Regions from separate parts of the Homo sapiens genome. Here region 1 is linked to region 2. Evidence: fine-mapped expression QTL. A gene starts in region 2. The other region holds a variant in brackets. All regions are shown on one strand. Distances are from middle to middle. Region 1 holds the start of DST-AS1 (DST antisense RNA 1). Region 2 holds the start of DST (dystonin).

Region 1 (5,380 bases), 110 kb after region 2:
TGGTCTTGCTTTGTTTGGAGTAACAGAAGTAGGCCAATTGCTGAGGAGTGCTCCAGTTCTATCTCAAGTCAGTTTTTTTTTCCCACGAGTACACAATTTTTTCTTTCAAGAGGAACTCATCCCTATCTAAGCATTAATGGAAAATGGTCCATAGTTCACAACACCCAACGCTAACAAAGAAATAAAAAATCATGGAGGGCAAAAGGTCAGTATATGTGAAAGGAGGAAATAGGGAAGGAAGATTTAGACAAGACGTGAAGTTGACATAGGTCAGACTGTCAACAATCAGCTGATTTATCTAATAATAGCAGTAGCAATGAGGTATCATCCTGTCACTGTACTCCAGCCTGGATGACAGAGTGAGACCCCACCTCCTAAATAAAGTAGTAGGTGCAGCAGCTAATCCTTATATAACACCAGACATTATTCTAAACTTCATTTACTATACAACTTTATGAGTTAGGCACTACTATCGCTGTTTTACTGATGAAGAGAGTCTCAGAGAGGATAAGTAACTTGCCCATGTGACACAGTAAGGAGTGAAGATTCTATGTACAGCAGCCTGACTTCACTGTTTTTTTTTTTTTTGAGACGGAGTCTTGCTCTGTCGCCCAGGCTGGAATACGGTGGCGTGATCTCGGCTCACTGCAACCTCCACCTCCCGGGTTCAAGCAGTTCTCTGCCTCAACCTCCCGAGTAGCTGGGATTATAGGTACCCGCCACCACGCCCGGCTAAATTTTGTATTTTTAGTAGAGACGGGATTTCACCATTTTGGCCAGGCTGGTCTTGAACTCCTGACCTCGTGATCCACCCGCCTCGGCCTCCCAAAGTGCTGGGATTACAGGCGTGAGACACCGCGCCCGGCCAGTCATTACTCTTAAACACATCCATTTACATGCCTGGGTATCAGTTGGTTCCTCCAATGGACGCTTAAACTCACCCACTTTAGTATATGATACACATATATCTAATTTAAGGGAACTGTATCCATTTTACTCAGTTTAATGGATACTAGTACTATGTAGAATGAATAATAAGGAGAGAGCAGGAGGGAGGTGATAAATATGGGGCAGTTGTGAACCTATAGGCCCGCCGCGGAGCCCAGCAGCAGATGCGCCTGTGGGCTCTGGGGGGCAGAAGGGAGGGACCGCAGGCTGGTACTCGGCAGCCTCGCGGCGGCCGGGAGCTCAGGCGCAGGCGCGGCCCGGCTGTCAGGCGCTGATGCGCGGGGCCACCTGCAGAGGCCTCCTCACCCTGTCCCCGGGATGTCCCCTAGACGCGGACCCCCGTGCCCTCCTTGCCCTGTGCTGTCACAGAGTGACCTGAATCCTCCCACGCCAAAAAGATGGGTGGAAGAAAGTATTTCCAACCCTCCCCCCGATCATCCCTTACCCAGGGAGAGCCGCTGGCCCCTCAGCAGGGGGCTGCGCACAGCGGTGGAGCGATCTGCGGCTTTGTTTCTCAGGCACCTGTTGTGGATCCCAAATAGAAACGTCGCCCTTGGGGATCCGGGACCGGGCAGCCAGTGTCCGGGGGTGGGCGTGCTTGGCCGCACGGTCCACCAGGGTGGGCGGGCCTGGGGAGGGGGCCTGGGGCGCGTGGCTCTGCCTGGGAGGGAGGGGCCGAGAGGCGCCGGGGCCGGAGCTGAGCCAGCCGGGGCGCTGACCGCCGCGCTCGCCCCCTCCCTTCCGCCCTCCGCCCTCCACCCTCCACCCTCCACCCTCCACTCTCCACCCTCCACCCTCCACCCTCCTCCCTCCCTCTCTCCCCGGCGCGGGCGAGTGTCTGCGGCGCGGCGGCCAGGAAATGCCGCAGATGCGCCGCGCAGCATCCCCGGTGAAGGCAGCGCGCCGGTCCTCCCGCACCGCTGCCGCGGCCTCGGCCCGGCCCGAAGCACGCGCCTCGTGCAGGGCCAGCAGAGCGGTCAGCGCGGCCGCAGAGGGTCCGGGCGCCCGCCGGCCCCCGCCCGCCCTCGCCGCACGCCCCGCTCCTCCGCTTGGCGTGGCGCTGCTCGTCGCCGCCCCTGGGCTCGCTGAGATTTGCCGCTGCTGAAACCCGAGAGGGACTCGGGCTCCCGGAGCCGGGCGGCCCACCATCGGCCTGCCCGGAGGCCTGGGCGTTTCCTTTGCCGGCCCTGGCGCCGGCAGCCCCCTGCGCCCCCGCTCTGCGTCTTCGGCTTCCGTGCTTCTCCCCAGCGTGCTGCTCCTTCCTCTTTTCCAGTTCCCAAGGCTGTGTCTTGCTGACTGCGATACTGTCCGGGGGTTACGAGGGGGAGAGGGGAATTTGTCAGTCATCGCTTAGATAAACTTC[G/C]GCATGGCGGGTTACCTCTCCCCTGCTGCTTACCTGTACGTGGAGGAGCAGGAGTATCTCCAGGCCTACGAGGATGTCCTGGAGAGGTACAAAGGTATGTGGTCCCTGCCCTGGGGCTGCGGAGCTTGGCACTGATCAGAGAGGCAACCGCTGCCTTTCCTTAATCAGAGCCACCACTCCTTGGGCACGAGTAAACAGGTGTCTGGACCAGTCTTGGGAATGGACCAGGTCTTTTTGCACGGGATTTAGTACCCCCAGCGCAGGGAGGATGGTGGGGTGGGCGACAGTCCGGAGACGCCCTTAGATGAGCGGTAGAGAGGGGGGAAGGGGGTTGTTTCCAAGAAGCACATTGCGTTTTCTCTCCCTTGTAAAAGCTCTTAAGCACTACGCGTAATCATAATTCTTCCTGGGAGGGTGGATACCGATTATTCTCTATGGGATTACTAAGGCATTGCTGCTGCTGCTTGGCTAGGGTATTGGTTAGCCCTGTAGAAAAGGTTCAGCATCACTAGATCATTTTCCTTAAAATGATCTTTCTTATTTGATAAAGTTTGTGACTATATACTTACTCTGATATATTGTAAAAATTATTTTATAGCGTGATGGATAAAAGACTTTAGTGAGTTTGTTGTAAATTTAAATGTAAAGAATGTATTTTGAGATTTTTTTCTGCCCATCCTTTATGTTCAGGAAATTCTATGCCAATCTGATATTTATGTTTTAGTATAATGTTTACTTGGACTTCATAGTTGAATATAATGATGAAATACAAATTGCAGCTGTCCATTTTTTAAGTGTTTTTGTGTCTGGAAATGTATTTTTAAGTGTGTGTATACCATCTTTTTATTGTGGCTCCCAAAACACTCCGAACTCAAGAGCAGCTCACAGAGGTTTAAAGTATTTATAGTGAATAGTGACCCATTTCATAGGTAGGATTCAGATGGTTTTATATCTTTTGAATATTTGCTTTGGGTTTGGTAACTCAATGTCAGTAATTTCAGTGGTATTATATGGTTAATGATGCATGTAGTTTTTCTATTAGTAGAAAGTAGAAATAAAAAAAAATTGAACTAAACAATAAAATTCCAAAGCCCCAAAAAGCCCAAATACACTCACAATTGTTTTCTCTCTTTGTAGGATATGTTTTATAACCGAAATTCTTGCAATCCTTGTAGAATTTTGTAAACAGTACAATGAGAATTCCTTTGTGCCAAGACTCTTATTGTGTATAATACTGCCACTGAGCAAGTGCAGTGATATTTTAGGCTAAAGCACATTTGTGACATTTGTGTGTGTGTGTGTGTGTATGTGGGTGGGTGGGTAATATACTCATGTTTACCTGCATCACTCCATTTTAAAGTAAGGTTTGTAATTAGTTGTTTCCAGAGCTTTGAAAAGGAGAAATATTGCAATATAGACCAACAAACCTTATTGAAGAAATACATCTGTGCTCTATACAGTCAGAAATAAAAAAATCTGAAAGTTCTAAAGTAGATACATTTTATACTTTTGAAAAAAATTATAGCTGAATGAATTTTTGTCACATGAAGTTTTACTTAAGTGACACGTGGGTGATTTCAGGTGACTGAAAACGAGTGCTTATTTGACTTTGTCTAAAAGAAGTAGGCATTGTTTAAAAGCTTGTCTTTGCCTTTGGAAATAAAAGGAAATTAAAGATCTGAAGGCCAGTGTACAACAATCAGTATTGCCCTTAAACAGATACATTTTCAAACATATTGTTCAGACGTCACTGAAAAAATGATGGGAGTTTTCCTCATTTTTACTTAAGGTTTTTAAAATGCTTAGTTCATCAATTTGTACTTGGGCTTTATAGCTGTGCTATGTTTCATTTAGTCATGGAAAGGAAAGTAAGAGTATTGGGCAGTGTATTCCATGAAAAGCTGGAGACCTGGAAAACTCATTGTTTCCCGATGTGTTTTGAAGCCAGTTATGATTTCCCATCAGTATCCAGTATGATGACTTCACTACACTGCTTATTATCCTGGTGACTTGCTGTGGGGACTGATCTAATCAGAAAAGAATTGTAGGCTTTGAATAGGGAGTGTCAGTTCACTAAACGTTCAGAGTACGGTTGCTCACTTTCTGAAATCATGCATTGTTCAAAACATTTTATGTTCTCATTTAAACTTAAAGGGAAGTCATTTTGATTTTATTTCTGACAGAGTTCCTTGGTTACAGAATGAGTTTGCATTCATCTAGAATATTATCAGGTTGCCAAGTTATCATATGCCTCAGCTGTTGAGTAGTGTAAGTGGTGGAGTCAGCTGGAACCAATTCAAAATCTGCCTGTTGTCAGAAATGTAGAATTGTAATAATCTATAATGTTAGGAATTATGAGCATTAGATTTAGAAGTCGAGAGTTTTGTTAGGTCTAGTCTTCAGACAGCCTTGAGAGGAGTTCAAATCAGACTCTGTAGAAAAACAAGAAAAGTGGAGAGTGAGCGCTAATTATTTATGGTGTAGTCAGTCTATTCTTGTATCTTGTTTTGGTCCATTACTTCTGAGCAAAAATAGGCAACTGTTTGCTGAATTAGAATAACACAGAAAGAGCTATTTGCTACAAAGAAGGGTGCAGTGTTCTGATTCATATTCGAGTCCTGTTACTTGTAAAATATATTCATGGAATATTCAGGGACATCTGATTAAAAAAACATATTTCTTCAGCTGATACCAAACTTCGGCTGAATAAAGGCATTTATTTTTGAGTAAAACATAATTCTTTATTATTGTTTAGGCTAGAAATTGTCTACATCAGAATGGCTTTCTTTTATATCTATAGTAAATTATCCAGTGTATATACCGTGTAATACAAAACATTCTTAGTAGCTTAGCTTAAAAGATACAGTAGTATCTTATTTTTTTTCTTAAGTGTAAGGAAACTAACCCATATGCTGTTATTATAAATGATTAATTAGTTCTCATCTTATGAAATTCTGCTTTTTGAGTTTATCATTGGAATATTTGTTTTCCCAACACATTGTTACTTTGTAGTATGATGTTAAGTGAGAAAATGAGATAATGTGAATTCAATACATTTCATTCTATACC
Region 2 (5,380 bases):
AAGAACAGAAATGAATGCATCTAAAAAGAAATATCTATAATCCTATTGCATGGCAGTTAAGCATTTGCCTGCCAAGAGAGATAAATGATGTTCTTGTGTGCACTTGAAACTTATAAATGGCTGCAGCAAGACGCAGGATGATAACAGTTGTGCTAAAGTCATAGCTCAGAAAACCATAATAGCTATTTAGTTGCTTTTTGTTGTTAAAAAAATATAGCGTTTGGGGCAATTTGAATACTATTCTGTGTGTCTTTGACATGTTTCTGTTCAAGGATACGTAGGCTATTTCAGCTCACTTACAAATTTCAGTCAATGAGAAGCATAAAGATGACCTTCCAAAATTCTGTTAGTTATTTCCCCCAATGTCTGCACACGGTTAGTTCAGTTTTGTTGTTTAAAATTACTCCACCATGCCATTGTTGAGTCAATGCGGTGGAGAATTCTTCCTTTCCTGATGTGCCACACATTGCAAACTCTCAGGATTTTCTTCAATAACCTCTGCATAATTGTTGAATAGTTTCTCACTGCAGTGGGCTGCGGTATCAAGAAACCTTTAGCCATATGCACATGATGTAGTGCTACCTGTCACCCACTCTGAGTGCTAGAGACCCATGAAGCCTATCCTGGAATTCAGTGCAGCCTACATGCTGCCATTCAAAATTCCCACCTTATGCAGTGTCTCCAAGCAAGGGCCCTTCTGAGTTCAATCCAAAACAACTGAATGAATGAGATGCAACATGTCAACAATTCGAATGTTTATTTTGTTTAAGGAAACCAGCTGTAAACAAAACGTATCTGTTGTTTTCCATGCTTATGAATCTGGCACTAAGAGACTGCATTAACCAATGCCTTTTTAGGTTTAATACTTACACACGGTAATATGTTACTGGCTTTAAGGACATCAATGATTAAGCTTTCATGCAGAGCTGTACGGTTTTGTATAGTTGGAAAACAACACTGATTTTGAGATCACTACAAGCAAATAAAACTTTTATTCCTCCCAATTATTTACCTGCTTTTCAAATTTTTATAAATTTTTATGACACAATTTCTTCAGTCTATTAAATATTCCAAAAAAGAGGCTAATACAGTTGTTATAAGAAACTCCGCAAATGCAGTCAAGTGTTACCTTGTCACTATAATTAAAGTTTTCTTATGCGAGTAAATGAAACAAACAATCCAGCCCCACACAGGGAAAGCCAGCATTGCCTTGGGGGCAGCAGAACGCGGCACAGCACCGCCCGCCAAGGCCGCAAGATGCCGCAGAATGACTGCTGCAGCAGCCGCTTCCTGGCCAGGTGGCCGTGGCCGTCCGCAGAAAGGCACACTGCAGCGCTCTCGCTATACCTTCCGTGCTGGCATTGCATCAGTGTTAAATCCCCTGGCCACCAACTGCCATATACTTTTTGCTGGTTATGAAGAAACGTGGGGAGGGGACAAAGGGGAGACAGAGTGTGCCTGCAAGTGTGAGAGATCACTATTGCCTCACACTCCCTAAAAAATTTCTCCCCCAAATGTTTATAAGCCAAGTACCAACTTACTTCATCTGCCAGGTCCCTAAATCTGAAATCGCCTTGCCCTTCAAATGCACTAAATGAGTCAGGGTTTTAGGGCAAACCCAGGGATACAAGAAGATCGAAAGTGCCCAATTCTTAGCTGCGAGATAAGCACCAAGTTTGGGGTGGAAGAGTTCACCTCTGCCGACCAGAGCGTACTACCCCGGAGCGCTCCTAGTTTAGAGAGGCTTGGAGAGGAGTGGGCCTCCCGTTCCTGGAGTATCCCAATTCCCAGGGAAGGCCCTTCCCGGCGCTCGCGCTTCAGAGTGCGAGGAAACCCCCACAAGCAATAGCTCACCCGGCTGCATTCTTCAAAGCCCCAACCTCGGGGCGGGGCGCAGGGAGGTGGGAGGTGGAGGGTAGCACCGCCGGGAGGCTCCTGTCAGCGCCTCTCGGTTTTCCCCCTGGCTCCTTGGCGCCCCCTGACGACGGGCTCCGCAGCAATTTGGCCGAGGGAGGCTGGATAGGCGGAAGCTCCGGGTGTCCGGGAAGCTAGAGGCACCCGGCCAATGCACCCGCGGACGGCGCGGACTGGCGGGCGGCCCCGCGGGAGGGCGCTGGGCTCTCAGGCCCGGGTGCAGCCCGCGGACGCCGCCGAAACCGCCGCAGCCATGTCCGCGCGCCCGCGCTGCCGCAGCCTGGCCGTGATGTCATCAGCCGAGCCCCCGCCGCGGCGCCCCATTCCCGCCCCCCGCAGGCTGCCGCGGCTGCAGCCTGAGCGCCGCGTCCCCGCCCCGACCCACGTGCGCCCGGCTTCTGGGATGCTGAGGTCGGCGGCGGCCGCAGGACGATGCGCGGGGCCCGGGCGGCCGCGGCGGCGGCGCTGCTCCTCCCCACTCGCCGCGTCCCCGGCGGGGCTGCGCCCGGGGGCTGCGCACGGACGGGGGCGGGGGCGCCTGGGGAGGGAGGGGAGAGGATCCCAGCCGCCGAGTCGCAGCCTCGTCGCTGTCTGCTGAGTCATGGCAAGCGCTCCCCGCAGCCCTGGATCACTCGCGTAGCGCGGCTGGCGCGGGGTGCGCAGCCATTGGGCTGGGCGCGGGGCCGCGAGCGCCAGGCATGACGCGCTGAGCCGCGCTCACCCGTGCCCGCCGTCCCGGCGTGCGCCCAGCGCGGGTGCCTGTGCCGCCGCCCTCCAGCCCCGCCGTCGAGTCGCCCTCGCCTCGCCCGCACCATGATCGCCGCGGCTTTCCTCGTCTTGCTGAGACCCTACAGCATCCAATGTGCCCTCTTCCTCTTGTTGCTTCTGCTGGGCACCATCGCCACCATCGTCTTCTTCTGCTGCTGGCACCGCAAGCTCCAGAAAGGGAGGCATCCGATGAAATCGGTCTTCTCGGGTCGTTCAAGAAGCCGAGGTAAGACACGCCGCGACGGGTTTCTGCGGGCTACCAGGAACAATTAAGCCGATTTGGAGAGTGAAGCGCGGCTCGCTCCCTTCTCCTCGGCTGCCCCTAGCCCCATCATTGCCCACTCCCCAGGCTGAGTGCGTTTCTTTAACGCCCCTTGCCCTTTTTGCCGTCACCTCCGCCCTCCAGTCTCCCAGGTTTGAATAACCACGGCGATGCCGAGGGCAGGGAGGGGAGGAAAGAACTCAAATTTTTAGTCAGTTTGCTAAAGCCTTAAGGGTAATTTGAGCGTAGTCCGGGGCTGCGCCAGCCTCGCCTTCACGCATCCTTCGCTGGAGCGTAGGGGTAAGAAAGTAAGGCATGGAAACTTCGGGGCTCCCCAACTCCCCCAGAACTTTCATGCAAACTTCTCGCGGAGAAATCACGTAGAGACCGATGGCCCCAGGACTCCTCCTCCCTCCCCCAGGATGTCCCACCGAATTCCAGGAGTCTGCGATGTGCTTTCCCAACCCTGGTCTCCCAGGTAAGTCATGAGTCACTCGGTAGGTGAAGAACAAGGAGTTAAATGAAGTCTCATTTATCTCTTTTCTCCCCAGATGCTGTTTTGAGATCGCACCACTTTCGTTCTGAGGTAATTTATTTAGCGCGCACGCTCAAGGTCAGAAGAAGTTCTCTTTCCTGAGTACCAATATTAATTATATGCGTGTTAAGAAACCAGTAGGACACTGAATGACGAACATGCTGTCCCCTAGCCGAAAGTGGCATGTTTCCTTTTAAGTGATTTCATATTAGTGCCCAGCGAACGGTTTTAGCAAATTTCTTGTGTAGTGGAGCTGTTGTACAAGAGGGGAAAAGGCAAACCCTAAAAGTGCTGCAGACCTTAAAAAACTTAGCCACAGGGTGGATGTCACTTGAGTTTACAGTTTATATTTTGCTGGTGGAAGTGTTTTCTGGGTGCTGTCAGTTGACTCTGGTTGTTCACTTGGATAAACGAAGAGGTTAGTGCAGAACAATTTGATCCATATGCATTTCATTTTCGATTTTCAAGTTTACATTTCTGTTTTCTCCTAAAGCTCTCCATGTTTTATTGGGGACCATCTGATGATTTTTGCAAAGCGATGATGGTAGTGTGTGCTTAAATGCTTGTGCTAGTCTCCACTCTCAAAACGTGGACCATCCCTCTAGGGCAAGTAACTCCTAATCACTGCACCCAGGAACCAGCTCCACTGAAGAAACACAAGCGCTCCTTGACCTAGGATTTCTTTAGGAGTTTTCAGGCCAACCTCCACTTATCCTAAGATAATTTCCCCTCTTTTTAGGAAAGTTGCACGCCGCCAGGCTTGGAGGTTGCTGCTTGGTGCAGTTTACTCATGTTGGCAAAGACTTCATAGTTAAACGCCCTCCATTTACCTGAAGTTATCTTGCCTTTCATTTCATTAGTTAATCAGATATTTTATGCCACCCTAGATGTTTTATTGGGTTCTAGTTGCTTAAAAACTTTAACTGTATTATTGCAATATCATTAAAATGTTGCACAAAGAGTAATTCTACTGTATATAGCCCTGGAAGGTGAGAACTCTATTCAGTTTAGGATTCTTGAGAGGATAAGTGAGGTAATCAGAGGTTCCATTCCTGGCTTTACATTAACTAGCTGTGTGATACATCTCGGTGCCTCGATTTACCCATCTGTAAGATAGGGCCATTAGTACCTTGCAGGGTTATGGGAGGGTGGAGGAAATTACAAGAAATTGTGTAAAGAAAAATCCCACTTAGTTCATAATAAGTATTCAGTATTTGGTAGCTATCATTATATTTTGTAAAATTGAATTTTAAAATGTATAAAAATAAACGATAATGTTTGCAAATTTCCAAGTCTTTATTAAATTACTTAATTAAAGTTTATGGAAAACATCAAAAACCGGGACTATCGTAAAGCAACAATTTTTGAATATGAGATTAATTCAATAGAACAGCCCATTCAGATGTGATGAGAAGTAAATAATTGACAGAGTGCAAACACCAAAATATAAGATTTTGATTTTAAAAAGAGATACCCAGTTCCACACACATAAATGATAGAACAAGAATAATAATCCTGTTTTGGATTATTATACTAGCCATCAGATATTTCAGCTAAAGCACAAACAAAAAATGAGATACAACTATGTCTTGTTTAATTATCTCTCAGTTGAATATTTTTGTTCTGAGCTTGCATTTGGTTAGGAAAGCTGGGGGTAGTTGTTTAATGCCTTAACTCACTTCATAAGATTCCTGGTACAGTTTGACATCTTTGTGTGGTATTTGCCTTGTCTACTAGACTGTGAGCTCCTTGAGGGCAGGACCATATCTTTCTTGTTTAGGGCTGTATCCCCACTATTTGGCTCAGTGCCTTGTATACAGTGGGTTATTAATAAATATTTATTGAATGAATGAATGAAAAAAAAAATCTCCTAGTGGGTGCTAGTTCCTGAAACTGGGCAA

Evidence for each region.
Region 1: its variant is fine-mapped to the expression of DST in whole blood (TOPMed, PIP 0.98).

The regions. Positions count from the first base shown.
Region 1 is chr6:56,840,080-56,845,459 of GRCh38, reverse strand. All of the region lies in intron 4 of DST (dystonin), which reads left to right. DST-AS1 (DST antisense RNA 1) reads right to left here and starts at 1,474. Exons shown (of 4, transcript NR_125866.1): 1 at 1,394-1,474. RefSeq lists silencers at 1,052-1,191, 1,532-1,731, 1,822-2,081 and enhancers at 1,165-2,032, 2,033-2,901. The variant G/C (reference allele first, on the strand shown) is at 2,312.
Region 2 is chr6:56,951,935-56,957,314 of GRCh38, reverse strand. It overlaps DST (dystonin), which reads left to right and starts at 2,485. Exons shown (of 104, transcript NM_001374736.1): 1 at 2,485-2,908; 2 at 3,496-3,530. The coding sequence starts at 2,728. BEND6 (BEN domain containing 6) reads right to left here and starts at 2,208. Exons shown (of 7, transcript NM_152731.3): 1 at 1,855-2,208. RefSeq lists a silencer at 2,020-2,709 and an enhancer at 2,871-3,502.